Regions from separate parts of the Homo sapiens genome. Here all the other regions are linked to region 2. The links come from fine-mapping of genetic effects on gene expression. A gene starts in region 2. Each other region holds a variant in brackets. All regions are shown on one strand. Distances are from middle to middle. Region 1 overlaps LOC105369656 (a long non-coding RNA gene). Region 2 holds the start of KLRD1 (killer cell lectin like receptor D1). Region 3 has its middle 11 kb from the start of GABARAPL1-AS1. Region 4 has its middle 38 kb from the start of GABARAPL1-AS1. Region 5 holds the start of LOC124902875. Region 6 overlaps LOC124902875.

What was found. PIP is the estimated chance that this variant, and not a neighbour inherited with it, causes the effect.
Region 1: its variant is the best candidate, but not a certain one, in a credible set for the expression of KLRD1 in whole blood (INTERVAL, PIP 0.59).
Region 3: its variant is the best candidate, but not a certain one, in a credible set for the expression of KLRD1 in atrial appendage (GTEx, PIP 0.89).
Region 4: its variant is the best candidate, but not a certain one, in a credible set for the expression of KLRD1 in left ventricle (GTEx, PIP 0.57).
Region 5: its variant is the best candidate, but not a certain one, in a credible set for the expression of KLRD1 in tibial nerve (GTEx, PIP 0.79).
Region 6: its variant is the best candidate, but not a certain one, in a credible set for the expression of KLRD1 in visceral fat (GTEx, PIP 0.57).

Annotation. Positions count from the first base shown.
Region 1 is chr12:10,283,344-10,288,422 of GRCh38, forward strand. The region is part of intron 1 of LOC105369656 (a long non-coding RNA gene); the gene reads right to left. It also overlaps a transcript of KLRD1 not described here. Among named protein-coding and RNA genes, the nearest start is that of KLRD1, 22 kb to the right of the region's middle. The variant T/C (reference allele first, on the strand shown) is at 2,716.
Region 2 is chr12:10,304,788-10,309,866 of GRCh38, forward strand. KLRD1 (killer cell lectin like receptor D1) reads left to right here and starts at 3,083. Exons shown (of 6, transcript NM_002262.5): 1 at 3,083-3,297; 2 at 4,601-4,693; 3 at 4,839-4,901. The coding sequence starts at 3,291.
Region 3 is chr12:10,223,501-10,228,579 of GRCh38, forward strand. No RefSeq gene overlaps it. Among named protein-coding and RNA genes, the nearest start is that of GABARAPL1-AS1, 11 kb to the left of the region's middle. The variant G/C (reference allele first, on the strand shown) is at 2,591.
Region 4 is chr12:10,250,583-10,255,661 of GRCh38, forward strand. It overlaps a transcript of KLRD1 not described here. Among named protein-coding and RNA genes, the nearest start is that of GABARAPL1-AS1, 38 kb to the left of the region's middle. The variant A/G (reference allele first, on the strand shown) is at 2,847.
Region 5 is chr12:10,272,068-10,277,146 of GRCh38, forward strand. LOC124902875 reads right to left here and starts at 595. Exons shown (of 5, transcript XM_047429945.1): 1 at 470-595. The coding sequence starts at 551. It also overlaps a transcript of KLRD1 not described here. The variant C/T (reference allele first, on the strand shown) is at 2,321.
Region 6 is chr12:10,258,663-10,263,741 of GRCh38, forward strand. LOC124902875 reads right to left here. Exons shown (of 5, transcript XM_047429945.1): 4 at 3,964-4,038; 5 at 2,446-3,676. The coding sequence ends at 3,648. It also overlaps a transcript of KLRD1 not described here. Among named protein-coding and RNA genes, the nearest start is that of GABARAPL1-AS1, 46 kb to the left of the region's middle. The variant G/A (reference allele first, on the strand shown) is at 2,770.

The sequences.
Region 1 (5,079 bases), 21 kb before region 2:
AGCAAGGAGCAGAATAGTGGTTACCAGGGACAGTGAGGAGCGGAGAGTGGGGATAAGGTTTTAGTAATGCAAAATGAGTAAGCTCTAGAGATCTGCTGTACAACATTGTGCCTAGACTTAACAATATTGTATTGTACATTTCAAAATTTGTTAATAGAGTAGATCTCATGGTGTATTCCTATCACAATAAAATAAATATTAAAATTAAATAAAACAGACCAGTACATAGCATGTGTGGTCACTGCAGGAGATAAAGCCTGAAGCAGAGAGGGGAAAGACAAAATAACAGGCTTCTCCCCTCTTCCTACCTTCCAAATCTCAACCCAGTGGCTCCATTGACTCCACCTACCTGGAAGCTGGTTAGCCATGGAGGTGGTGAAACATGTGTTGCAGGAATCAGCACCCCAAGAAACAAGCAGAACAGGGGAAAACCAGGGAGGACAAAGAGAAAAGTGACTGACAGAGTGGAAGAAACCAAATCTATCAATGCATAGAACCATTATATTTTGGGAGAGATACTTCTCATACTCAATCAAAAGTAAGACTTGTTGGCTGGGCATGGTGGCTCATGCCTGTAATCCCAACACTTTGGGAGGCCGAGGTGGGCGGATCACCTGAGGTCAGGAGTTCAAGACCAGCCTGGCCAACATGGTGAAATCTCATCTCTATTAAAAATACAAAAAAAAAAAAAAAAATAGCTGGGCATGGTGGTGGGCGCTTGTAATCCCAGCTACTCAGGAGGCTGAGGCAGGAGAATCACCTGAACTGGGAGGTGGAGGTTGCAGTGAGCCCAGATCGCACCAGTGCACTCCAGCCTGGGTGACAAGAGTAAAACTCTCTCTCAAAAAACAACAGTAACAACAACAACAACAACAACAAAAGACTTGTTAACACAATATTCTGTGAAGAGATTCAACTTACCTTGTCCAATCTATACATAGGTTTACTATAACATGTGTGTAAAATCACTCAGATAAATTATCAGTATGAAACCACATGTGGAGGGGCTCAGTAAGTGGGGAATAGGTGTTTTGAACAAAGAATTGAGTATAATTTAATCCACATACTGACACAGGAGATAAGTCCCCAGTTCTTTATCCATAAGGCTAAAAACCAAATCTCTGTAAACAAAATGTTTTCATTAGTTTGGTTCCAAAACCTGAACTTAGCTAATCATAGTTTTTGTTTTATACATTTTGCTGTGGAAATATTAATGTGCTGGGTTATAGCGTGAATCATCAAATGCCAATGAGGCTGTTAATTCATGTATGTATAAACACATATATTTTAAAATAAAAACTAATAAATTTTAAAGTACATTTCTCTCCACAAATTTCAGATAAGAAATTAGGGTCTCTGGGCCAGGCACAGTGGCTCACACCTGTAATCCCAGCACTTTGGGAGGCCAAGGCGGGCAGATCACCTGAGGTCAGAAGTTCGAGACCAGCCTCAACGTGGAGAAATCCCGTCTCTACTAAAAATACAAAATTAGCCGGGCATGGTGGTGCATGCCTGTAATCCCAGCTACTCAGGAGGCTGAGGCAGGAGAATTGCTTGAACCTGGGAGGCGGAGGTTGCGGTGAGCCCAGATCGTGCCATTGCACTCCAGCCTGGGCAACAAGAGCGAAACTCCATCTCAAAAAAAAAAGAAATTAGGGTCTCTGTATCCTACACATCATTTAGTTTCCACTTAAAAGTTTTTAGATGTATGGTGAGAGAACTATATATAAAAGAACAATCTATGCCCTATTCCTGTGAGATTTCTCTTCATTATCTGGCTCTACTGATGTTGCCAGTGTACCATGCTAGCAATGTTGCATATTAACCTGGAGTAAAATATCATTTCTGTATTTTCAAAATTCTTTACTACTATTTATAAAATAAATTCTTACCTTTAGATTGTGTTGTTGCTAAAATTGAAATTTAAGTAGAGAGTCGTGTGACTGATAAAAATGGGTTCCTTCTTTTAAAAACAGTCTGTAAAACCACAGCCAGTCAAGTCACGTTTATTCTAGAAATTATTTTTGCCATATGCTAGTTTTCTTTTCCTCTCATGTGAACCATCTTTATGTCTAGTCTGAAAAATTCCTGTTACAGTCACCATTCTGTCATGATAAGGGTTCTGAAATAACTCAGGGACAAACCATTCCTTTCTTTAAGCTTCCAATATGAAATAAGTCCTTTGTGTATCAATAGTCACCAGGATAATTTTTCACATGGTTTTATTTAACATCTTTCTTCATGGTACCTTAAAGTTGTTTTTTTTGTGTGTCTTTACCTGCCCATTATTTCCACCTACAAAACACGCTATCTCTAAGCACATTATCCGAAGAAAATTCCAGTTAAAAATCATCTCATAGAAAATATGACTAGTATTTACAGTCCAGTCAATGCTTTATGATTCTTATGTTATTTTTTCTTTGTGATTGACTCTTTCCTATTCCCTCCTCTTCTCTTAACAGGTAAATATTGTCACAGCTCTAAGTTTAGTAATGTTTCCTATGTTTACACTTGCTGGAATAACAAAAATAGCGCAGCTACAGTGCTAGTGATCAGCCACATCCATGCTTGTAAACCTCAGTTCTGGTCTCTTCTCTCCTCCTTAAGCTGTGTCTTCTGCTTTTTGCCCAGGTAAATTGCTTCAACTCCCAATATTGTTTGCAACAGCATCTTACTGTTTTCGCCAGACACGCCATTTCCTCTACCCATTACCCA[T/C]CCACTTTATCCCCAACATCCTGCGGCCACACCAAGACCAGTGTAGGTGTTAACTGTTATTTTAGGCAGCAGCAACTCTGTGGTTGGAAACATTCTGTACCATACGGTGTGATGTGTCAGCCACACCTGTTACACATAAAGTGTACTGATGACTGAGGTCTCACAGGGGTCCAGGGTCATATCAGAGTCCGGAGATTTCCGTGAAAGCTTAAAGTTCAGTCTGCAAACTCACTGTAACTAATAATGAATAGCTTATGTCCTATCTACCTCAATATGTTTCTTAATGGTTTTGAGCACTAATTAGGTGTTAAATACCCTATATGTTTATACATTAAACCATTCTCAGAACATATTTCCAATAAACTATTTAGTTGCATTTTACGTTTTACACATGATGGAAAAGAATCTTAAAGGGGTTATGTAACCTACTCAAGTTTACGATCTACCAAAAGCAGAATCAAACATTTGAAACTACTCACTTTTGACATCTTGTATTTAGCAGATTGAAGAAGCAGAAAGAATAATTACCTGATAAGGATTGATTAGAAATTAGTTTTGAATGCAAAATAGTCTTTGAATCATCATTTTATTTCGCTTATGGTGCTTTTTTTTTTTTTTTTTTTTTTTTTTTATAGAGACGGGATCTCACTTTGTTGCCCAGGCTGGTCCCAAACTCCTGAGATCAAGTCATGCTCCCATCTTGGCCTCCCAAAGTGTTGGAATTACAGGCATGAGCCACCGCATCTGGTCCCGTAACTGTTTACATTCAGTTTTGTTCTTATAAAGAACCTCACTGGGCACCAGGTGCAGTGGCTCACACCTGTAATCCCAGCACTCTGGGAGGCGAGGCAGGGGGATCACCTGAGGTCATGAGTTCGAGACCAGCCTGGCCAATGTGGCAAAACCCCATTTCTACTAAGAATACAACAATTAGACGGGCGTGGTGGTGCGCCTGTAGTCCCAGCTACTCAGGAGGCTGAGGCAGGAGAATCGCTTGAACCCGGGAGGCAGAGGTTGCAGTGAGCTGAGATTGTACCACTGCACTCCAGCCTGGGTGACAGAGTGAGACTCTGTCTCAAAACAAAAACAAAACCCTCTTTTTTTTTATTGTTTATCTGTTTGTGTTTTTTTGATGATTAAAAACCGTGGTGAAACTGTACCTAAAAGCAAAGATGGATATGCATTGTAAGGCACAGGTTTGAAGTTAGACAGCCATGGGAGAATGCAAGGGTATGTATGAGATTGGTATAGTCAATAAGTATTTGCTGGTATTTGTTTCATACACAAATACATGCATATATACAAATAACTCCGAATTTTTTTTTATTTAACACTCAGACCTCTCACAGATAGGTTGCAAAAAAATGTTATACAAATAATGAGAGCATTTCCTCCCATGAAACCTAACTTCAAACAAATCCAAATAAATTCTAAGTTTTAAAAAAGACCATCCATTTTGGTGCCAACATCCTTTTCAAGTGAATTATTTATATACTGAAGTATTATAAAACCTATAAATAGATATTGTTATATATAAACAGATACTTTTACGAATTAAATTATGCTTCTTAGAAGACAGAAGCATGAAATGGAGAAACGAGGAAATAAAATATGTAACTAAAAATTTGCTAGGACTTTAAAAACCACCCCTAGGTTATACAAAACTACGGGGATAACTTAGTTTAATTATCTGTCTAAATACGGATTTTTACCTCTGTAAGAAAGATCAGGCCAGGCGCAGTGGCTCATGCCTGTAATCCCAGCACTTTGGGAGGCCGAGGCAGGCGGATCATGAGGTCAGGAGATCGAGACCATTCTGGCTAACATGGTGAAACCCTGTCTCTACTAAAATACAAAAAATTAGCCGGGCGTGGTGGCGGGCGCCTGTAGTCCCAGCTACTCAGGAGGCTGAGGCAGGAGAATGGCGTGAACCTGGGAGGCAGAGCTTGCAGTGAGCCGAGATCGCACCACTGCACTCCAGTCTGGGCGACAGAGCGAGACTCTGTCTCAAAAAAAAAAAAAAAAAGTACAAAAATTAGCCAGGCATGGTGGTGCGTGCCTGTAATCCCAGCTACTCAGGAGGCTGATGGAGGAGAATCGCTGGAACCCAGGAGGTGGAGGTTACAGTGAGCCGATATTGCGCCACTGCACTCCAGTCTGGACAACAGAGCGAGACTCCGTCTCAAAAAAAAAAAAAAAGAAAGATCAGTCAGTACATAGTCAAGTACGTGTGCATGCATATATATGCATATGTATACATTATGTAAATATGTTGTAATTATTATATAATAAACCTACATTCAATATATCTGTGGCAATTTATCTATCTAAATTTGAACAAAAACTAAAAATTCCCAGCACAAT
Region 2 (5,079 bases):
ATTTTGCAAGCAAAACACACTATATATAAGAAACCACTATAGCTAGTAGGTTTGTTATTAGCATGTTTACAATGAGATTTTACCAGGTCAGTAACGTCTTTTGTTTTTTCTCAGGGAGCCCTCTCTCTCTGTTAAAAGAATAATTTGCAGCCTGATGTGAGCAATTTTCTTTCCGCTCAAAGAATGCATTTTCTAAAAGCAGTGAGATCAAAATAAATTTTTCCCTTGGGGATACTAGAACGTATACTGTTATTTTGTTCTGCAACATTTTAGTTATACATTTTTAGGTAGGGAAAAGACTTCACTGTTTATATGTTAAGTGAACATTAGTTTCTTTTCCCTGGCTTTTGACTAAGGTTTAAAAGTTGACTTAGCTATTGAAGTCATCACTTGCTCTTACCAAGGGCACTAGTAAATTGCAGGGGAGGAAGAGGGCATCTTCCTGCAATGGATACTAGGGGATGGAAAGTCCTGCAAAGAGAGACGTTCTTTTGGCAGGATACCTAACTTTTCAAAAGCAAATTTATGTAAGTGAAGCTGGATATTTCAGCGGAATTTAGTCTGGTTTCTCTCGGCAGCACACTCAGAGAATACTTTGAGTAGAAACTTTATTTGGAATTGTGTATGCAATAAATGTAGGAAAGGAAATGTAATAGGAAAGGGAAAGTGGAACGCAATAAAGGTTATTTTCTTAATCTAGCTTCTAGAGGAGGTGACTGGAACATAACACTATTGAGTAATTCTGGGAACTGGGCAAAACACAATGTTCAGAATTACCTGACTTTAGGGCTGAGACTGCTGGACTGTATAGCAAATCACAAGATTCGTTTGTTGACGCCCATTCTGGTGATGATTATTCAGCACTTCCGGATTAGCATGTCTGAGAACAGCAAGGCTTTCAGCAGTTATTGGAGAAAAAAAGAACCCATAGATACAGCTATACAGATAACTAGTTGGCCATAGTTCCCCAAATATTCCAAGGGACATAGGCGAGGCAATGATAACTTCAGGAACAAGTGGAGATGAGTGGGAGAGATACAGTACATGGAAATCATTCACCTGTCTACGTACAAAAATAAATAGAAAGAACAGAGGCCGGGCACGGTGGCTCACGCCTGTAATCCCAGCACTTTGGGAGGCCGAGGCGGGCGGATCACGAGGTCAGGAGATCGAGACAATCCTGGCTAACACGGTGAAACCCCGTCTCTACTAAAAAAAAAAAATACAAAAAATTAGCTGGGCGTGGTGGCGGGAGCCTGTAGCCCCAGCTACTCGGTAGGCCGAGGCAGGAGAATGGCGTGAACACGGGAGGCGGAGCTTGCAGTGAGCCGAGTGAGCCACTGCACTCCAGCCTGGGTGACAGAGACTCCATCTCAAAAAACAAACAAACAAAAACAAACAAAAAAAGAACAATCAGAGTTGGCAGCTCAGAAAGAGTTAAAGAGGTATATACATATATGTTTACTGTGTGTGTGTATGTGTGTGTGTGTGTGTGTGTTTAGGTATCTTAAATATTTAAGCCTGGAGTTCTTGAAGTAAACTTGTATTTGTTGGATTTTTATTTCTAAGTCAGTGAACTAAGATGAAAAAAAGGACAATGACTGATGGACGTATTCTCACCAAACAGGGTTCTAAAAACTTAGAACCTCTAACTTCCAAATAAAGGTGGTTGTGTTAGTAATGAAAGTGTAGTAATAATCCCTATTGCACATTCTGTCATAAATTTGTACTCTCTCAAGAGAAAAACTAAAAGCAAACCCCTAATCTCCTATATTTTGAGGCAATTTTACATGGGGGAAAAATAGTATCAGACAGGTTTCTTCCAGACCAGCTTTTTCTAACACTAAAAATGAATAGATTTCAAGTAAGCAAAGGATTTTTAAATAAATCACTTCAACTAAGATTTGCATACAGTCTGGATGAAGTAGATTTTACGCTTATATTCTTCAGTGAGGATTTATAGCTCAACAAATTTGTTGGTGCAATGAAAGCAGCTCTAGGCACACAATGCAAACTGAAAAGATGGAAAGTTTTGACTTCATAAAAACTGAGAAGTCAAAGTAGTCTTTTCTTTCATTTTTTTCTGTTGTTGGTTGAAAGCCCATCTTTTACAAAAGGGTTTATCTATAGTAATATTATAATGCTTGAACATAAACAATATACAAAATATAATACACAAAACGTTTATTTGAGTGTCTGCTTTTGTATGGGGGTGCATGGTAGATTGTATTTCCAGATACTAAATCATGGATCGAAATCTCTCCTTTCAAGATTCTTATTATAGCCAATCTCTTCCACATTGGAAATTTGACCTGTTCCACATTTGATATTCCTATTAACAAGGTTACTCTTCTGTAGATGAAAAAGTGTATATCGAAGTATCAGTATAGTATCTGAATTAGATAACACACTAAACAATATAATAATGTATTAGTAAAAATAAGGAAAATAAAGAAGCTGAAGTCGTGCTTAAAGAACTTTAAGAAAATGAAAATTGAGGTGTTGAAAAAAGCTTTTAAGGCTAACGTGAATGAGGCGTCCAAGTGGGAAACCCATCCAGTTCTACTTTTTTGAACTTTGCCTGTCGTGGCCAGGATAATTAGGTAGAGATCAGAAGAACAGAGTGAGACATGGAAATCCCAATTTATGTGACCTTGGGCAAATTACTTAGCTCTGTATGCCTCAGTTTTCTCTTTGATAGATTGAAGATATTTATATATCTTTACTATCAAGCCATTTACAGAAATAAATGAGCTAAGATATGCCAAGTGCTTTAAATTGTGTTAAGTACAAGGTAAATAATAAATGTTTATTATTAAAAGAGGAAAATTCTGTAAGTAATTTTGTTATGCTAAGTAAATTTACCTTTGGTTTGCCCATCATTTCCTTCATTTTCCAGATAACCCTTTAAAATGAATTTGATTTTCAAACAATAAAAAACAAAACAGCAACAAAACTCCCTCTGACCTCCTCTCACCTTCTTTAGTCCTTGCCAAAGTGTTAATATTGCAAAAGTACTGTGAGAATTTCCTGTATTGTGGTTCCTGGAACACTTCAGAGGCTTGTGATTCTACTGCTTCTTATTCACACTATAATACATGTCTCACCAATAGATGATTCAAGAACATCATTTAAATACACAATTTTTCATTCTCTATTTTTGCTAAATTTCTTCATACTCAACTTTCAGATTCTTTAATCTCCAGCTCAGCTTCAACAATTCAACGCTGTTCTTTCTGAAAAAGTACACATCGTGCCTTCTCTACTTCGCTCTTGGAACATAATTTCTCATGGCAGGTATGTGTGATTTCAGTCACTAAATTAAAAATAACCAGAAAAGCTATTTCTTGGATTGGCTGATTTTGGGGTAATGCTTTAAGAGAAAAGGACATGATTAACAGTGGATGTTTTTAGGATTTTCATGCATTAGCACTTTCCACATTCATTATATTTTCCTGATTCTTCATTGTATAACTTAGACATGATTTCATGAAGTTTTTTCCACAGGTTTGAAGAGTGGTTTCTGACAGGGCTACCTTTAAATTCTGAGTGAGAACTGAACTTTAGCCTGGTTAAATTGTGAGCAACAGTGTTCTAGTATAGCAATAGAAAATGCCAAATATTAATGACACAATGCTGAAAAGGTTTTAATTGACTATTTATGTTGTGACATCCAAAAATTACACAAATGAACAGTTTGACACATTGTACTGTTGTTAATGACATCACTCTTTGAGAGTGTGTTCACGTTAGCACAGAATCTCCTAATGTTGAAATGTTTTAGGTGAAAGGCCTAAAAGCAAGTAATTTTGAGTATGAACAAATGGAATGTTCTAGGGGAAAAAGGATTGTTTATGTATGTTCAATATACTGTGAAATGAAGCCAGGCCTCAAAGTTGTTACCCATCAATTTGTTATCAGTTATCACACCAAGTCCAGAATGTTCCTATGTCTTCTTTTCCCTATAATATCTCTACGAACCAATGAGCAGCTAGACATTTATCAGAGCAAAACCTGCACTGAGATGAGGAGAGGGCATACTCTCAACTAGTATTATTGTGACAATGGTAGACTACGTTGAATGAAAGATTCTTGAGCTAGACACACTTTCATGTGATTTCTGACTTGGATACTTACTTGCTTTGATACCTTGAGAAAATAACATTATTATTGGACCTTATGTTTTCTCATCTATGTAATGAGAACCATACTATCTATCTTGTGATTTTGTTGAGAGAATAAAAATAAATGCCTGTTATGTAAGTCCATAAAACACAACGTGGTGCTTGTTAATATCTTCTACCTCCAGATCTTTAAGCACCTCTGCCAATTTAAAATAAATGGTAAATTCACTTTACTGCAACAGAGCTGGTAGAGAAGAAAATGTTTGAATAATCTTCCTGAAGAATAAGATACATCACATAAAAATGTTGGTATTGGGTGAAGTCCCGATTGGAAAGTCTTCAGTGTTTTATTGGCAAGATGACTCCGTTATCAAATGAAAGAATGTTGTGGATTCTCCGTCACTAGTTTCTGCTTTTAAGAACTCAGCTCCTGAGTTTGCTCTTTAAGTCATTACTCTGTCTGTCTTTCTCTACAGTGTTTAAGACCACTCTGTGGAGGTTAATTTCTGGGACCTTAGGGATAATATGCCTTTCGTTGATGTCTACGTTGGGAATTTTGTTGAAAAATTGTAAGTTTTTCTAAGCAAGTCTCCATAAAAATCAAAACTGTGAAGACATCATTTAATAATAAAGGCTTCATCTTGCTAATGTGTAATATTTTAGTATTTCATAAACCCATACCTAATTAAACAAATTTCTAATCATTTCTTATAGCTTTTACTAAACTGAGTATTGAGCCAGCATTTACTCCAGGACCCAACATAGAACTCCAGAAAGGTAGGTCACATTTTTTGGAAAACTTAGCATTGGTAAAAGATTAAATAGGCAGTTTCTTGTTTTTCACACAGAGAGGCATGATGGAATATTATACTTAGTAATAGAAATTTGCCTACCAGTGTAGGATAGTCTCATTTTACATTGCTCAATCTAATGTAAAAATGATTAAATTACACTG
Region 3 (5,079 bases), 81 kb before region 2:
TGTCTAGGCCATCTCCCAGATTTAGCTGACTCAGAATCTCAGCGTTAGGTGTCTAATTTTTAACAAGCTCCTGATATGACTGCTGCACACTGAAGTTTGAGCGTCATTGCTTTTTGCACCAGGTTTTGCTGTAGGTCCCAACCACACCTTACTCTCTCCATCACAACTTGGTCAGTCTGAAGCCACCATCTCCCAAAGCAGCAAATAGCACCTAGGCAAGGCTCCCGGCATCAGAACAAGCTTGGTGTCTTCTGACCATATGAAAGTCTTGTTCAGTTATTCAGGAACGAATATGTGGGTGGGCTTTGAGCATGCAAGTTAAATGAGAGAATGGAAAACAGATTAGTGAAAACTTCTTTCATGAAAAACCTTAAGACCCATCTCTAACCCTCTCTAATCTCTTGCAGTCATATCCCCAAGTGATGTCTACCTCTGTAGAGAGTTAGGGAATATATCAAGGTCACCAAAAAGGAAGTAGGAAGTTATAAAAGATCCATGCCAAGCAGCACCACATGCAGAAAATTATGTAAGATTACGGAATTTTGATGAAGGCATTGAAAATGGACACTTGTCCCTAATGACAAAAATATCAAGGTGCTGTTCCCTGATAAAGCCAAAAGGAAGCTAATATTTGAGTTTAAGATGTGAACTGTATTTTGAAACTAACAGATTTATCCATGACCTAGGAATGAGACTGGATGAATATTTGAAAGAAAGCAAAAAACACATGGCGGCAGATCCTAACCCTCTGTACACATCTGAAACAGTCCCTGTAGGGCAAGAGACTGTAGGCCATTGCTAAACCAAAGAGATCGTTTGAATTTAGGGGCTGTGTCTCTCCCAGGTAGGCTTTGCTTATTGTAGGCCTACTTCCTGGATTTTCCTAAGGAACAAATTTTGTCCTTGGATAGGACATTACATATCATTTTCGACAAGCTGTCTGATTTTACGAAACAGTGGAGTTTTTAAATAACAGCCAAGTTCAGAGGCAAAGTCACACCAGCTGTTGTGGAAGTGTGTCCGGAATTGGTGGGTTTTTGGTCTCACTGACTTCAAGAATGAAGCCGCGGACCCTCGCGGTGAGTGTTACAGCTCTTAAGGTGGCGTGTCTGGAGTCTGTCCCTTCTGATGTTCAGATGTGTTCGGAGTTTCTTCCTTCTGGTGGGTTCGTGGTCTCGCTGGCTCAGGAGTGAAGCTGTAGACCTTCGCGGTGAGTGTTAACAGCTTTTAAGGTAGCGCGTCTGGAGTTGTTCGTTTCTCCCGGTGGGCTCGTGGTCTCGCTGGCTTCAGGAGTGAAGCTGCAGACCTTCCCAGTGAGTGTTACAGCTCATAAAAGCAGCGTGGACCCAAAGAGTGAGCAGTAGCAAGATTTATTGCAGAGCAAAAGAACAAAGCTTCCACCTTTTGGAAGGGGACCCAAGCAGGTTGCCAATGCTGGCTGGGGCTGCCTGCTTTTATTCTCTTATCTGGCCCCAACCACATCCTGCTGATTGGTAGAGCCGAGTGGCCTGTTTTGTCAGGGCGCTGATTGGTGCATTTACAATCCCTGAGCTAGATACAAAGGTTCTCCACGTACCCATCAGATTAGTTAGATACAGAGTTTCCACACACAGGTTCTCCAAGGCCCCACCAGAGGAGCTAGATACAGAGTGTCCATTGGTGCATTCACAAACCTTGAGCTAAACACAGGGTGCTGATTGGTGTGTTTACAAACCTTGAGCTAGATACAGAGTGCCGATTGGTGTATTTACAATCCCTGAGCTAGACATAAAGGTTCTCCAAGGCCCCACCAGAGCAGCTAGATACAGAGTGTCGATTGGTGCATTCACAAACCTTGAGCTAAACACAGGGTGCTGATTGGTGTATTTACAATCCCTGAGCTAGACATAAAGACTCTCCACGTCCTCACCGGAGCAGCTGGATACAGAGTGTCGATTGGTGCACTCACAAACCTTGAGCTAAACACAGGGTGCTGATTGGTATATTTACAATCCCTGAGCTAGATATACTCTCCACATTCCCACTAGACTCGGGAGCCCAGCTGGCTTCACCCAGTGGATCCCACACCGGGGCTGCAGGTGGAGCTGCCTGCCAGTCCCGCGCCGTGCGCTCGCATTCCTCAGCCCTTGGGTTGTTTGTTCCTTCCCGGTCGATGGGACTGGGCGCCGTGGAGCAGGGGGTGGTGCTCGTCGGGGAGGCTCGGGCCGCACAGGTGCCCATGGAGTGGGTGGGAGGCTCAGGCATGGCGGGCTGCAGGTCCCGAGCCCTGCCCCGCGGGAAGGCAGCTAAGGCCCGGCGAGAAATCGAGCGCAGCGCCGGTGGGCCAGCACTGCTGGGGGACCCAGTACACCCTCCGCAGCCACTGGCCCGGGTGCTAAGTCCCCCATTGCCCCGGGCCAGCAGGGCTGGCTGGCTGGCTGCTCCGAGTGCGGGGCCCGCCAAGTCCACGCCCACCCGGAACTCCAGCTGGCGCGCAAGCGCCCCACGCAGCCCCGGTTCCGCTCGTGCCTCTCCCTCCACACCTCCCTCCAAGCTGAGGGAGTGGGCTCCAGCCTTGGCCAGCCCAGAAAGGGGCTCCCACAGTGCAGTG[G/C]GGGGGCTGAAGGGCTCCTCAAATGCCACCAAAGTGGGAGCCCAGGCAGGGGAGGTGCCGAGAGCAAGCGAGGGCTCTGAGGACTGCCAGCATGCTGTCACTTCTCAGCAGGCTGGATTGGATTTGGCACTTCTTTACTGAAGGTCAGTTCTTCTCAGCGCCGCTTCCATGTTTTCTGCTAGTCAAGCTTTTAATGCTTCTTTGTGCCGTCAGGCCATTGTGAGGCTTGTCATGAGCTAAAAGTAGTTTAAGAAGCCCTTCGTTAACCTGGCCCAGTGTTCCATGTTAAGATTAGTTAGATTGTTAGTTAGATTGGCTTACTCTGATTGACTTGCTTCTCTCTGGGGATAAAGGTTGAATGATGTGTCAAATGAGATTAGGGAGGCCAGTATGACATGAACATCAAAGATGAGTGAGTCCTTAGCTCTTCCATACACTTCGGTAGAAAGATTTCAAATATATGTAGGGTAAGCATACATCTTAAGTTTGCCAAAGATAGTCTTGAATTATGCCGGTTGTCCTGATTGATTTATTAGTGGTTCCTTATTTCACTGTCACATGACCCCCCCCCCCCCATTGGACGAAATATGTGGTCACTCTCTATGTAGTATAAACATTGAAGCCTCTTCCATCAAGAGAGACACAATGCCTGTGCCATCCAGGTTTAGTGCTCCCCAGTATGGGTCTTACCCTGTCAGGTGGAGGGAGACTAGACAAATCATTCTACTTGTGAATGGCAGTCTATTCTGCTTTTCTTGATTTTTCCCCCAACCCTGACTTGTTTTCCTCTTTCAAAGCATTGTGCTTTCAAAGCATTGTTAAATTTTTTTACTGTATTGTGCAATCAGAAGTTAAGATCGCAAAAGAACAAAGCAAATTATGATTAATGTACAGTAGTAACCAGGCAGACAAGATCACTGCCTCATGCACTGCCTCATCACTATAAAATATGAATAGAGCCCCCCCAGAGTGGTGCAGTGCAGTCCCCTGGTCACTGCAGTGGCCCTTTGGACACAAGTCTTGTCAGTTACAGTTGTCTTGAGAGTGTTACACTTATTAAGCTTACAATTCTGCATTCTATTGGTACTGGTACCATCAGATAGAACAGGTGTGTTGTAATTTTGAAGTGGTGTGTGGAGGGGGGCCATGCATATCCACCTGCCCGTGGGTACAGCATCAAGTCAGCTGTAATAATGACAAATTCAGTCATTTTGGAAAATGAACTAGTTGATAAATTCATATTAGTTCTTATACAAAATTTGTAATTAACTATTTCTAGCTGTGGTTTCTTTTGGATGTTTTTGCTTTGCCAGATTTAAACAAGCTACAAACATTTATTTAACTTTAGTTATTTTTAGCTGCATGAAACTACCAAATATTTCAGAAACAAGTCCATTTTGCCTTTGGTGGTTCTGAGTCCAGGCTGTCTGAGTAATGGAGAATTCCCTCCTCACCTATGCCCACTGCCCAGCGACCCACCCCTTTGTTTACCTTTGATAAGTAGCTGAACAACAACAACAAAAAGTCCACACACACAAATACTAGAATCCCTGTTCCAAAAGCTGTGACTGATGATCTCAGCTTGGTTACCCTGTGTAGGGCCCTGCCTCATTTTCTTTTCCTTTTTTTTTTTTTTCCTCCTGGTTGTGGGCACTTCTTAAGTATATGTACCCATGGCTAGATTATTTTCAGAGTTTGAAATAACAGGAAGTTATCACCCTTAAAAGTAGTCAAATGACATTTCACTATGCCATTGTGCAGGTGTGCATGTTTTCAACAGTGACTAACAAAAGACAAGTCATTCTCCTGGTGTGTTTTCATCACGGTGGGGCCATCTATTTCAGTAGTTCTGTTTTCAAAAGCAGTGTATTTAAGACCCTTAGGACTTCTGTTTAGAAGTACTTAGCTCCTAAAACTTGAATAAAGTGATCCTGAACTTTTGGGTGAGAAGTTGAAACATGTTTTCTATTTTTACACTTTTAGTAGGCTCAAAGTTGCTTCATACCATTCAGTAAAAGAATGATGATGGCTTTATTGCTTCTTTAAGCAATATGCACATGGTATTCAAAGGATAAAAGTAACAATAAGCCATATTTTACGTGCTAAAATTGGCTAGTTCCTAACCTCCTTCAAGTCTTAGATACTATGTCAAGGAGACCAACTCTGAACATCTCTAATATTCAACACCTTCCCCCTACTTCCCTTTCTCCTAGTCATTCTCAACCTTGGTCTTTGTCTTTTTTGCTTCGTAGTGATCATGTAACATAATTTTCTAGTTTATTATGTCTTCTCTCTCTAGATCCTGAGGTGCAGGAAGGCAGAAACTTTTTGTGTAGTGATATACAACAATTGGTCAGAACAGTGAATGGCATATGGTTGGCATTCAAAAATATTGAAATAGTAGTTTTTGATAGGACTGAACCACTAGGCAACTTAAATTATCCAGAAAGACATGTTACAAACAGGCCAGTCAAGGAACTTTGGGAAAC
Region 4 (5,079 bases), 54 kb before region 2:
GAGCAGCTGGGACTACAGGCTCCCGCCACCATGCCAGGCTAATTTTTGTATTTGTCCCAAAGTTTTCTGCTTGACCTAGATAAAACTTGGGTATTAATTTATCAGTTACCTTTTAAACACATTTTAAAATTTACATTTGCAACACCCCTTTGATTATTAACTTCCATTATATGTTGAGGCAAGTCAGTACGAAGTGGTTTCAAAGTCACATAATACTTTAAAAATGGATAGCGTATTAAGGTAATATAAAGGGTCTTGGGTCTGTGAAGCTAGAGAAGATCCAGACCAGGAGAAAGTCTCAGGTATTTAAGAGCATGTTTTCTGGTTAAGGAAAGGATAATTGAAAGCAGCCGCAAGTGCCATGTTTCGTTCATTTACCATCATTATCAACGACTTATTTAATGTAGTCATAATTTTGTAATCGGGATTTCTGAAGTTCCATAAACTGGAGCTAACATATGTTGCCTCACTAGCATTAACTACAGATGTTAACATACTAACCTTTCACTCTGGAGTTTGGGACAGTGAGTGATTATTTGTTATTATACTATTTTCTTTTTGAGATGGGGTCTCACTCTGTTGCCCAGGCTGGAGTGCAGTGGTGCGATCCTGGCTTACTGCAACCTCCGCCTCCCAGGTTCAAGCAATTCTCCTGCCTTGGCCTCCCGAGTAGCTGCGATTACAGGCAAGCACCACCAAGCCGGGCTAGTTTTTGTATTTTTAGTAGAGATAGGGCTTCACCATGTTGTCCAGGCTGGTCTCAAACTCCTGACCTCAGGTAATCCTCCGGTCTTAGCCTCCTAAAGTGCTGGGATTACAGGTATGAGCCACCATGCCCAGCCCTTTTATGCTATTTCTTTGGCAAACACAAAAAGGAATGGTCTGGTCCAGTGGTCCCCAAACTTTTTGGCCCCAGGGACCGGTTTCATGAAAGATAATTTTTCTATGGATGGGAGCAAGAGGGGGATGGTTTGGGATGGTTCAAGTGCGTTACATTTATTGTGCACTTTATTTCTATTATTATTACATTGTAATATATAATGAAATAATTCTACAACTCACCGTAATGTAGAATCAGTGGGAGCCCTGAGCTTATTTTTGTGCAACTAGATAGTCCCATCTGGGGGTGACGGGAGACAGTGACAGATCATCAGGTATTGGATTCTCATAAGAAGCACACAACCTAGATCCCTCGCATGTGCAGTTCACAACAGGGTTTGTGCTCCTATGAGAATCAAATGCCTCTGCGGACCTGACAGGAAGCAGAGCTCTGGTGGTAATGCCAGCAATGGGGAGTGGTTGTAAATATAGGTGAAGCTTTGCTCACTCATTCCCTGTTCACCTCCTGCTGTGCTCCAGGTTCCTAACAGGCCACAGTACCGGTCTGTGGCCTGGGGCTTGGGGACCTCTGGTCTGGTCAATTACACATTTCTCCTGAATTCTGGAGAGACAACATACCAGTTCCTCAGAGGAAACAAAGATTTTCTTAAAAATCACATCAAATTAAATTACTGCTTTTTGCTTATTGAAGTGGATAATCTTACTCTTGTTTTTGTCATTGAAAAGACACTAGGCCAGGTATGGTGGTTTACACCTATAATCCCAGCACTTTGGGAGGCTGATGTAGGTGAATCCCTTGAACTCAGGATTTTGAGACCAGCTTCAGCAACATATTTATGTTCTATAAATGTATGTTCTATAAATAATACAAAAATTAGCTGTGTGTGGTGATGTGCAGGTGTATTACGTATTTTCTATAAATAATACAAAACTTAGCTGGGCGTGGCGATGTGCACCTGTAGTCCCAGCTGCTTGGGAAGCTGAGGTGGAAGAATCACTCAAGCCTTGGAGGTTGAGGCTGCAGTGAGCTGTGATTGCGCTACTGTACTCCAGCCTGAGCAACAAAATGAGAACTTGTCTCCAAAAAACAAACAAACAAACAAACCCCACCACATTCTCAAGTTATAAGAAGTTAGTTCTTCTTCCCTCATGTTACTTAAGATTTGAATTCATGATTGTATAGAATCATTAGTTGTCTTAAACAAGCAAGGGCACTAAATGAATGACCATTACAGGGAAGACAGTAGATTCCATGAGAGGATGTGTCTTGAGAATGTATATGAACATGAAGACTTCATCTTTGAGAAAGAGGAATAACTTTCAGAGGAAGGTGATTCAAGTGAACCAAGACATGACACTGAAGAAGAATGGTGGGGGTGGTAGGGAGTAAAACTATCGCAGCTGTGTGTACACAAAAGGGAATGAACCAGGGTTGGGAGTGCAGTGGTGTGAGTTGTGACTTGGGCCTAGAATGCTTGATTGAACATAGCATTACTGGCTTTGCTGTCCTGAGTGAGTCAGTGGGCAGTTGTAAAAAAAAAAAAAAAAAAGATGAATAATTTAACTTTTAATAAACAAAGTTTGACAATCCTCTGCATAAAACATTTCTTATCTAATGCTTTTAATATTTTTTTATCACTAGTTTTGAAGAACTTAATTATAATGTACATGTAAGTAGATTTTCTTATGTTTCTTTTGCTTGGGGTTCGTGGACTTTCTAGATCTATATGCTTATAGTTCTAGCAATTTGGAAACATTTCAATTTCAGTATTTAAATCTCAGTTTTCAACTGTAAGTTCTTTGAATACTTTTTGCCCCCTCCTATGTATCCAGAGACTGCTTTTAGGCGTACGTTGGGCCCCTTGCAGCTGTCCCGCAGGTCACTGATACTCCGTTCATACACTTTTTAAATGCTCTTTAATGTGTTTCATTTTGTTTAGTTTTCATTGCAATGTCTTCGGATTCGGGCATCTTTTCTTTCACAGTGTCTTTTTTTTCTAACTTTT[A/G]TTTTAGGTTTGGGGCTACCTGTGAAGGTTTGTTACATGGGTAAACATGTGTCATGGGGGTTTGTTGTACAGATTATTTCATCACTCAGGCATTATACCCAGTACCCAATAGATACCTTTTCTGCTCCTCTCCCTTCTCTCACCCTATCCCCTTGAGTAGACCATGGTGTCTGTGATTTCCTTTTCTGTGTTCATAAGTTCTTATCATTTAGCTCCCACTTATAAATGAGATCATGAGGTGTTTAGTTTTGTTTCTTCATTAGTTTGCTAAGGATAGTAGCCCCCAGCTCCATCCATGTTCCTGTAAAAGGCAGGATTTCATTCTTTTTTCATGGCTGCACAGTATTCCATGGTGTATATGTACCACATTTTCTTTATTCAATCTGTGATTGATGGGCACTTAGGTTGAATTCAAGTCTTTGCTATTGCGACAAGTGCTGCAGTTATCATTCACATGCATGTGTCTTCGTGGTAGAAGGATTTATATTCTTCTGGGTATATACCCAGTAATGGGATTGTTGAATTGAATGGTAGTTCTGTCTAAAACTATAAAAACGCTGGAAAACAACCTAGGCAATACCATCTTGGACACAGACAGGAATGGGCAAAGATTTCGTGACAAAGACACCAAAAGCAATCGCAACAAAAGCAAAAATTGACAAGTGGGATCTAATGAAACTTAAGAGCTTCTGGACAGCAAAAGAAACTATCCACAGAGGGCAGGGCATGGTGGCTCACGCCTGTAATCCCAGCACTTTGGGAGGCCGAGACGGGTGGATCACGAGGTCAGGAGCTCGAGACCATTCTGGGTAACGTGGTGAAACCCCGTCTCTACTAAAAATACAAAAAATTAGCAGGGCGCGGTGGAGGGCGCCTGTAGTCCCAGCTACTCTGGAGGCTGAGGCAGGTGAATGGCGTGAACCCGGGAGGCGGAGCTTGCTTGCAGTGAGCCGAGATCGCGCCACTGCACTCCAGGCTGGGCGACAGAGCCACACTCCGTCTCAAAAAAAAAAAAAAAAAAAAACCTATCAACAGAGTAAACAGACAATGTACAGACTGGGAGAAAATATTTGCAAACTATGCACCTGACAAAGGACTAATGTATATCCAGCATCTCGAAGGAACTTAAACAAATCTACCAGAGAAAAACAAACAACCCCATTAAAAAGTAGGCAAAAGGCTGGGCGTGGTGGCTCACACCTGTAATCCCAGCACTTTGAGAGACTGAGGCTGGTGGATCACCTGAGGTTAGGAGTTTGAGACCAGCCTGGTCAACATGGTGAAACCCTGTCTCATGTAAAAATACAAGGAAAAATTAGCCAAGCGTGGTGGCGCCTGCCTGTAATCCCAGCTACTCTGGAGGCTGAGGCAGGAGAATCACTTGAACCCAGGAGGCGGAGATTGCAGTGAGCTGAGATTGCGCTACCGCACTCCAGCCTAGGCAACAGAGCGAGATCAGTCTCAAAAATAAATAAATTAAAAAAAAAAAAGAAAAGTAGGCAAAGGACATGAACAGGCACTTCTCAAAAGAAGACATACTTGTGGCCTACAAGCACATGAAAAAAGCTCAACATCGCTGATCATTAGAAAAATGCAAATCAAAACCACAATGAGACACTGTCTCACATCAGTCAGAATGCCTATTATTAAAAAGTCAAAAAATAATAGATGCTGGTGAGGATGCAGAGAAAAGGGAATATTTATATACTGTTAGTGGGGGTGTAAATTAGTTCAACCCTTGTGGAAAGCAGTACGGAGATTCCTCAAAGAGCTAAACTGCAGTGTCTTATATCTACTAGTAATTTGAGGACTTTTAAAAATTATTCATTGTAGCTAAAGGTTTACTAATATTGTTAATCTTTTCTAAGGTCCAACTTTTGGCTTTGTTTATTTTCTCTATTTTCCACTCTATTTTATGTACATACCTTCTAGTATTTATTGTTCATTTGGCTGGCGTTGGGTTTAATTTATTTTCCTTTTTCTAGTTACTTAAGGGATGAAGTTAGGTTGTTGGTTTAAGATGTTCTTTCCAATGTATTTAAAGATATAAATTTGCCTCTAAGCACTACTTTTGTTGCATCCCGTATGTTTTGGTATGTTGTGTTTTTATTTTCATTAGCTTTAAGATATTTTCTAATTTCCCTTGTATTTTTTCTTTGACTCATTGGTTATTTAAAAGTGTTGTTTACATTCTAACTAATTTTCAAATTTTTAGTTTTACTTCTGTTACTGA
Region 5 (5,079 bases), 33 kb before region 2:
AGCATCTGCAGTAAAATTGGAAATAGAAGCAAGAGTAGAAATATTCAAATTAATTTAAATGCCTATTTCTGCCTCCTCTTATAGTTGAATTTAATCCTAATGAAAGGAGCATGAAAAGCCGTTATCTAATTCTCACTAAATAAATTCCTTCCACAACATATTGCATGTATTCCTTCAGTACAAGTGAAGCAGAACTCATAGACACCAAAAGTCAATGACATTCACCAAAAGTCAATAACATTACCCTAAATAATATTAAACCTAGTGCAACTGTAAATATTTACTTACCAAACTATAATTTTCTGAGATTTAAGTCCCCTCTAATTAGAAAATCCTGAACTCATTTATAAAGACAAAAGATTTTCAAATCCTCCTCTAAAAGTACCTGGTTATGAACTCATTATTTTTAATATTATTTTCTCATCAAAAGAAGAGATGATTTAGCAATAACAGCAGAATCTGGTTTTACCTGTATTTATTTCATGAAATGCCACTGGCGAAGGTTGAAGATCATGAGAGAGCCTGGACAGTGCTGATGTCTCTGGTTCCATTGTTCAGATTAAATTGTAAGGGCCAATGAGCACAGGGTCAGAATGAGATGGGACCAAGGCAACAGAAGTCTTAATATTGCGACATCAGAGAGGATGTTTACAGTAAGGCTAATATGTAAACTATGTTTTTGACTTAAGAAAATTAAAGATAATGTACTCTTACAAATTAAATTTGTTTTTTCTTTTATGTATGATGAACCACTTTTTTATTTCTAAAGATAAAATTTTAAATATTAACCATAAAGATTTCCTCTTTGCCTTAATTGCTATTTTTTTAAAATTAGAAAACAATAGACTAAATAACGTAATATAAATAAATGACATTGCATTTGAATGATTGTAACAGATACGGATTTTCAGAAATACCTTTTTTGTGATTGTAAATATTTATGCTCATTGTAGATGATTCAGTTGAACACAACATACAACCCTATTCCCTCGATATAATCTCTAACATAATTATTCACAGCTTTATCTAATTTTTCAAATGACCAATGGATGTTTCACTTTAAAAAGTAAAATAACTGTCAAATTAAATAATGAAAACAATTAGTACTTATTTCTATAATAAAATTTTTACAGTCATTAAACATAGATGAGATAGCTTTTCAGGTATTTATGTGGATAATTTTCCATGATACATTAAGTGGAAAAAAGTAAAAGTATTACATAGTATAACTTTATATTTTGGTAGAAAGAATTCTATAATTATATGTGTGTTTGTAATAGAATAAGATTATATGTCTGACCTGAAAAGATTGTAATGTAATAATATTTTGGTCATTAACTTGTTAAATTTGTATTTTTCATATGTGGTTTTCTATTTTTGTGTTACTGTTTCTGATGAGCATAATTTGTTTTTATCATTGAAAGGACTAAAGTGTGCATATGTGAAATTTCTTTTATAGTCTAATGTATGCTCTGAGACATACACACCACAGTAACCACAGGTCAACTGCCCTCTCCTTTGATGGATAGAAATAAACTTCATAACAAAAGCATATAATTTCATTGGCAGACTATGGAGCATTGTTGGGTCTTAAGTTGTTTTGGAAGAGTGCAAAGATGATGATCAACTTCAGATATTAATAATTCATATATACATGGATTAAATTCTAGAGTGAGTAGTAAAATGATGAAAGTATAATTTCAAAAATTACAGAAGAAAAAATAGATTGAGAAAAATACGTACATTCAAAAGAAGTTATAAGGGTGGGTGGAGTGGGGGAGAGATGTAAGATCAGGCAAGGACAAGTAGAAAGCATAAATTTATGTAAATTATAAAAAATCAGACATATCAACAGTAAAGGTAAACTCTGTAAATGTTCCAGGAAAAACAATTAAAAATTATCACAATGGGTTCTTAAAAATTTTTAAATGTTGGCCAGGCATGGTGGCTCATGCTTGTAATCCCAGCACTTTGGGAGGCCAAGGTGAGTGGATCATCTGAGGTCAGGAGTTCGAGACCAGCCTGACCAATGTGGTGAAATCTCGTCTCTACAAAACACAAAATTAGCTGGGGGTGGTGGTGCATGCCTTTAATCCCAGCTACTCAGGAGGCTGAGGCAGGAGAATCGCTTGAACCCGGGAGGCAGAGGTTGTAGTGAGCTGAGATCGCGCCATTGCACTCCAGCCTGGGTGACAGATTGAAACTCCATTTCAAAAAAAAATTTTTTTTTAAATGTTACAGGTTATTTACAAAAATTACATCTAGTAGATAAGGATGTGAAATGGTTGAAAATAGAAGATCAACATTTATGTAGTGCAAA[C/T]ATTAATCAAACCAAAGTATCATAGCTCCTGATATCTGACAAAACACACTTTAAGGAAAAATGTAGTAAGAAGATGGGTCTTTTAATAATAATCAAAGTTTCAATTCAACAGTAGTATATCACAATTTTAATATAACCCTTTAACACAATTAGATTAAATTGTGCTACCTGGAGGCGTTTGTCTAAACTGCCATATGTTTAATTTCTTTTTCATGCTGTCTCTTTGTCTCTATGGGCTGTGTTTTGAAAAATGACTTCAGAAATGTCATTCAATTCATTAATTCTCTCTTCATCCGTGTCTAAGTAGACATTAAATATATCCAATATATTATTTTGTCTTTCAAAAAATTATATTTAGTTCTTTTACAACTCCATAAATTTATGTATTTTAAAGAGTTTTTTGTTTTCTAAACACATTTCCAAATTTGTCTTATGTTCCCTTAACCATGGTAAATATAATTAATTTATACCATGTGTCTGATTATTGAGGTAATGGTTGTTTTGTATCTTTTTCTTTTTTGGAGAAGGAGTGTTGCTCTGTCACCCAGGCTGGAGTGCAATGGTGTGATCTCGACTCACTGCAACCTCCACCTCCCAGGTTCAAGCGATTCTCTGCCTCAGCCTCCTGAGTAGCTGGGATTACAGGCGTTTGCCACCACACCCAGCTAATTTTTGTATTTTTAGTAGAGATGGGGTTTCACCATGTTGGTCAGGCTGGTCTCCAACTCCTGAACTCAGGTGATCTGCCTGCCTCAGCCTCCCAAAATGCTGAGATTATAGGCGTGAGCCACCGTGCCTAGCCGTTATTTTGTATCTTCTGTCTTTTTTGTTCCTACTGGTTCTTTTTCGGGTACTTTGCTTGTGTGCTTAGTTTTTTATTTGTTTCTAGCTCTGAGTGTCTCATCTTTCTCACTAATTTATTCATGGTAAATCATTAAGCTTGGGATGAAATGGGTTGTTCTAGAGAACATTACAAATTAAGTTTGTATTTTCTCCTGCTAGGTGACAAGAAATATTACTAATTTAGACTATTTTAAAATGAAATCTTGACCTGCTGATCTTTTTAACCGGTGGTGGTGTTAATGCAACCTGCAAATCCACATGATGTCTGGCTCCAGAGATACTATTTCAGGAAGAAAATGTTCTTTCAACCATCGGGGGAAGCTGATTTAGTTTAAGTTTACCTTATCCGAAGCATGTAGTTAGGGTTAGGTGTTGCGGGAATTGTTGAGTTACTTGAGAAACCAGGTATTCAAAGTTCACAGTTACAATGGAATGTTATTTTAGTCATACCTCTAATATCAAGTGAGATAATATGCAAAACTGCGTTTGTATATCCTCCACTCTTTTTAAGATAAACTTTTATGATAATAAAAATTACCAATTAGATAAATCAATTAATATTTTTCCCTCTGAAATATGACAAACATACAGGAAAGGACAGAAAACATATATGTAGAGATTAATGAATAATGATAAAAGTTAAGTAAAGATAGATATTACCACACCCCAGAGTGTTTCCTGCATTGATCCTCCTTATTACAATGCTTCCTCCTAGAATTAATCATTCTTCTGATTTTCTTGCTTCTTATGCACATATTCTTAGTAGCTTTTTTGCTTATTTTAATTATATTTGTGTGAATAGAATGAAACTATACTTTTTTTGCATTGTTTTATTCTGTATTTATTAGAGTTATCTGTGTTGCTGTGGACAGCTGTAGTTTACTTGTGTATGTAATTTCTTTGTATGATATACTCTCAATCAGTTTACTTACTCTACCTTTGATGGACATTTAATTGCTTTCTTTTCAGGACTATTATAAATAATAGTCCTTGGATGTTCTCTGTATTTCTTAAATTATCACCTCACTACACTTGTAATCTATATTTAAAATTATAATATGTTTTCTGTTCTTGTGCTTTGTTTGTTTGGATATTTAGTGACTAGGTCGGTATATGGGTATAAATGTTTATAAATTTCTCTAGGGTAGCCTTTGACATTTTCTGTTTATCACAGCCTTTTAGTATCTTTATCCTTTTGGCCTTTGCTCACTTCCTGTAAGAGAGATGGTTTAAGGGCAGTGATCAAAATTTGAAAATAACAACAAAATATCTTGGTATTGAGAATAAGAAATTTTTCTTTTTCTTTTTTTCTTTTGAATCGGAGTTTCGCTCTTGTTGCCCAGGCTGGAGTGCAATGGCATGATCTCTGCTCACCACAACCTCCCCGTCCCAGGTTCAAGCGATTCTCCTGCCTCAGCCTCCCGAGTAGCTGGGATTACAGGCATGTGCCACCATAAAATTTGACAAAAAAAAAAAAAAAGTAAAATAATGGTCAATTTCCAGTGATAATCAAGGTGAAATTTGAGAGCCTGATATGAATTAGCACCAGGAAGTTTGACCTCTATCCTCAGAATATGCAATCTGGACACAGAAAAAGAGAAGATGAAGTTTCTTTTTAAAAATTTTAATTATTCTTTTCTGCATACTTAGTGACAAGAGATGATGAAATTTAATTTAGCTGCATGCCACAGTTAATTAGGCGTATGTAATGGAAAATAAGAAATAAGTGGAAACAAAATCATTCAGATGACTCACCATTAAGTCTAGTTTTGTGTGGTTAGGGCATGGCAGTAGCAACAAATGAGAAAATAAAAGTCAAGCCTGAAGAAGAAATTAAGCAGAATGAATGAAATAAATACAAAGGCAAATGTTGGCCTCACAGAGTTTTTTTTTTTTTTTTTTTTTTTAGATATTTG
Region 6 (5,079 bases), 46 kb before region 2:
AGTCCTTCCAAAGACATATATGTCTCAGGGGGAGGAAATAGAACTAAATGGACCTTGAATGTTTAATTCATGTCTTCACTTGTCACTGAAAGAAATAGAGAGTGAAGAACAATATGAAAATGAGACTCTTAATATGACTTCTTCACACAAATGCATATGGCTATCTTTCATTAGAAAAAGAGGTTGAAAAAATATATATTTATGCTTTCCCAAACTCTAGATATATACACCAAACCTTGGGAAAAGGGAATCTGTAAGACCTACGAAGAAGCCAAAGAAACTTAGATCATTTGTAGCAAAAGGAGCAATGAGCAGAGATAAATAGAATTAGTCTGCAAGCAAGACTTAGTTGATGGGAAAGAGAAACACTAGGAAACTGTGATTCCGAGGTACCTGGGGATGCTTCTACTTTTGAGATCAAAAGCATTTATTCTGTTCTGTAATATCCACCCTGAGTAACCCATGGCCTCCTGAATATCCACTAAAGACACAGTAGATAGTTCTGGCTAGAATGCCCACAGCCTTCAGTGTAAAATTCTAAGAATTATTCTAATATGCAATTCTTCTTATTGGCTTAATTAAATATTGTTCTAGTGATTGACAATTACTCCATCACATTATTGTTGTTCCATTTTTAAGATGCATTCCTCCATCATCATCATAGTTATGTAGAATATTTTGTTATTATTTTGGTCATTTTCTGAAAGTCATAATATTCATCCTTGACTTATTAATGTCCAATATATGTAGTTACTTTACATTTTCCTAGCCATTATAAGAAATTTAGAGCTTTTTAGTTCTATTTATTATTCTTTTGAGTTAAAATGCAACTCTTTAATGTAAGTGTATGTACTGTAGTAAACTTTAGTTTTATGCAATTAAAGTAGTGGACATTATTTATGGTTTCATATAATTGCTATTCATTTAGACTTACATCTGTATTTACCTATTTCATTGTCTTTTATCCTGAGTCTTTGAGGTCTCATCTGAGATCATTTTCTTAAACCCAAAGAATATTGTGGGCTGGGCATGGTGGCTCAAGCCTGTAATCCCAGCACTTTGGGAGGTTGAGGCAGACGGATCACGTGAAGTTGGGAGTTTGAGATCAGCCTGGCCAACATGGTGAAACCCTGTCTTTACTAGAAATACAAAAATTAGCCAGGCGTTTTGGCACATGCCTGTAATCCCAGATACTTGGGAGGCTGAGGCAGGAGACTTGCTTGAACCCAGGAGGTGGAGGTTGCAGTGAGCCAAATTCATGCTACTGCACTCTAGCCTGGGCGACAGAGTGAGACTCCATCAAAACAAAACAAACAAAACAAAAAAAAGATATTCTTCTAGTGTACTTTCTTAATACAGATATAAAGATATAATAAATTGTTTTTGCTCTACTTAAATGGTCTTTCTTTTACCTATGGAGTATAACTAGATGCTCATATCATTCCCATCTGTATAACTAAATGCTCATATCATTCCCATCTGTATAACTAAATGCTCATATCATTCCCATCTGATGAGATGATTGCCTCTGAGGATAGAATTTTAGTATGGCAGTTGTTGTCAATCAATAATCATATAGCCTTCATTTTCTTTTTCTTTTTGTAGGTTAGCTTCCATTATAATTGTTGCTCCTTTGAAAGTAAACTTTGCTTCTCTTCCTACCTGTAAGTTTCTGTTTGTCTTTTTTTTTCAACAGTTATATATGATACACCTAACTTGTCATTTTATTCACCCTGCTGGAGTTCATAAGCCTTTGATAGTATGTAGTTTGATATTTTCTATCAGTTGTGGAAAATTCAGATATTATCTCTTCTACTCTAGGTTATGGGGAAATTGTGATTTATAAAAACAAATTTTAGGCCAGGCACAGTGGCTCACGCTTGTAATCCCAGCACTTTGGGAGGCCGAGGTGGGTGGGTCACGAGGTCAGGAATTCAAGACCAGCCTGACCAACATGATGAAACCCCGTCTCTACTAAAAATACAAAAAAAAATTGGGCTGGGCGTGGTGGCTCACGCCTGTAATCCGAGCACTTTGGGAGGCCGAGGTGGGCAGATCACAAGGTCAGGAGATCGAGACCTTCCTGGCTAATATGGTGAAACCCCGTCTCTACTAAAAAATACAAAAAAATTAGCCGGGTGTGGTGGTGGGCACCTGTAGTCCCAGCTACTCGGGAGGCTGAGGCAGGAGAATGGCATGAACCCGGGAGGTGGAGCTTGCAGTGAGCTGAGATCATGCTACTGCACTCCAGCCTGGGACACAGAGTGAGACTCCATCACAAAAAACAACAACAACAAAAAACCAAAAAAAAAAAATTTTTTTGAGGTAATAGACCATTAGGAGCAATTGCCTTAGCAAATTCATTGCTCTTTATGTGCATTTTTTGTTTGCTCTTGCTGAAAGAGCTCATTGCTGATGTGTATATACAAGTTCACTTTGAAGCACCGTATGTAGATGAGATGAGAGTAATGCAATTGGAAGAGACTTTCTGGTGTGCTCTGTTGAAAGTTATTCAAAGTGAAGTCTGGCTCAGTAGGGAAGGATGTTGCAATTATGAAGAGCACCTTCTAAGAATACTGTATGGAAATTTTCAGCATATATGCCATAAATTTACCATCATTGATCTGAATTGAAGTCTTTATTAAAGGCAATAACAGAACTTCAATACAATGAAAAAGAAGAAATAATATAGAAGTAATAGTCACATAGTAGAGGAGAACTAAAATATAAAAGACATCTATATTCTTTAGGCTTGCTAGGATCTACTGC[G/A]GGAAACATTACTGCTGTTAATGTCTTTTATTCACATTCCAAACAATAATTAGTATCAAAATAGTCCTTATGAAGAGCTATTATTCTTTTTCTCACTGTTCCTCTTTAGAAGATACATGCAGGGTAGAAAAACGTAAATCTGCTTGTATAAGCAGCTCTGACTATTTACAAAGAAGCAATATTCTTACAATTTGATTCATTATGATTTTTTGTTCTGGGATCAGCAAAGCATAATGACTATGTTCCTGATCTTTAGAGTTAGACTCTTTTAGCTTAAATCATAGTTTAAGCTTCTAATTCTTACTATTTCTGATACCCAGAAAAAAAGTATCATTCTCTCTGGGTCTTGGTTTTCTTATTAATACAACAATGGCAGTGGTAATACTTGTATCATAAGATTAATGGGAAAACACGTGAGTTAATGCCCACAATCATTGATGTAGTACCAGGAATATTTGAAGCAATCAACAAATATTAGCTCTTTTTTAGTTGCCACTTGTGACCAGATTCCCTTTAGTTTCTGTGTCTATGTGATGTTTTCCCCCATTGTTAGCCAACATTTGAAATTTCTTATATTTGCATTTACTTCTGTATGCAAATATATTTAAAATCTAAAATCATTTTAAGGTCATATTTTAATCTTTTGAGTTTGATTGAGATGTCTCCAATTTATAAAATGTTGAGTTTAGCATGCTTAAGTGAACACAATATGTTAAAAATTCTCTATTGATAATTATCTGATGTGTAAGAAAATGTAAGAATGAATACCACATTATACACTTCCAATTCTTCATTATTGGTCTTGATGGGACTGGAGCTCAATGCTTCAGAACAAATTTCCTTGATGCCAAGATTTTATTTTCAGTAGATATAAAATGTCAGTTTTCTTCAAAGGAAGACCAATTACCTTGACAAACAAAAAGAACATGCTAGAAGATAACTTTGTCCCCTACAGTCATTCAGTGAATTATAATTTTTGCATTATTGTTTTCAATTGTCCTCCCTAACTTCAAGAGAAGTCCTGATATACGAGAGTTTTTCTGACAAGTACACCATTGTTAACTAACTTTGGTCTTATATTTACAAAGTGAATATTTACCTAATACATATTTACATATATTTACAAAATACATCTAGATTTAAACAGCTTATGTGTGATAGATACCAACATTCCCATTGTAAACCAATACTTACCTTTGTTTTGTGATATTATGTTGCAATGTGCAGTCTCAATGGTTGCCTTATTCAGGATCTCTTTAAGACAATGAACTGAAATTCACAATATTTGCAAAAGAGAATACTATTATCATTTTCAAACATTTGGGATGGCAAATAAAACAGATATCCAAAATTTCTTACACACAATTTATGCATTCATTGTTTTAATTGAATGAAGAACAAATTGTAAATTATCATTTGCAATTTATATTAAGGTATGAACTTTTACTTATGAAATATATTTATGAGTCAATGACTGGTGATTTAATAAGCACATGTTTGTATATATGATTGATGTTATTCTAAGCAGTTAGTTAACCCAGGCAGTCAGGAAAAAACAACCTATGCTATTTTTGCAGCAAACACCTTAGACGTAGTGTACGTCTAATCAGTCACAAAGTACTGTTTATCACGACAATGCTTCATATATCTGTTTCCTTCTTCACAGTAACATAGCTTTTTCCTACTCAGATTGTCATTATTTTTATGCTGAGCTATTTTAATATTATACAAACTCTCTCTAATTTTCACTTTCCAGTATTTTCCACAAATTGCCTCCAGAGTAAACACCCCCAAAGCATACCTTGAATAATGGTACACTTTCAATCATCTTCAGAGGCTATGAACTATTTATATGCTAAAATTCTAATTCATTAACATTAAAATTATACAAAATTGTACCATTTACACAATTGTACTTTTTCTAACCAGTTATATTTTTAACTACCTTCATATATGAAATCTTTAAACTACATGATTTTGCATTGATGTGTTCTATAATATTTTTATGAATCTGGCACTAGAGATGGCACAATTTGAATTTTTAAAATAAGAATGAATATCCCTAATTTGAATTAATTTTAGTCTTAATGGTCCGTGGTCACGTATAAAAGATTTGGGAGACTTGACATGAATTGTAGAAGAAATCTGTCTGCATTTCTGCTTTACTGAGATCAGATCTGATCCCTGTCCAATAACAAAATCTTATAATATTTTACCCACAAAGTTTCAGTTTAGTCCTGTACAAACTCATGTCCCCATGATTTTAAGTTATCTGAACCATGTTATTCCAGCTTGAGTACCAGATGCATT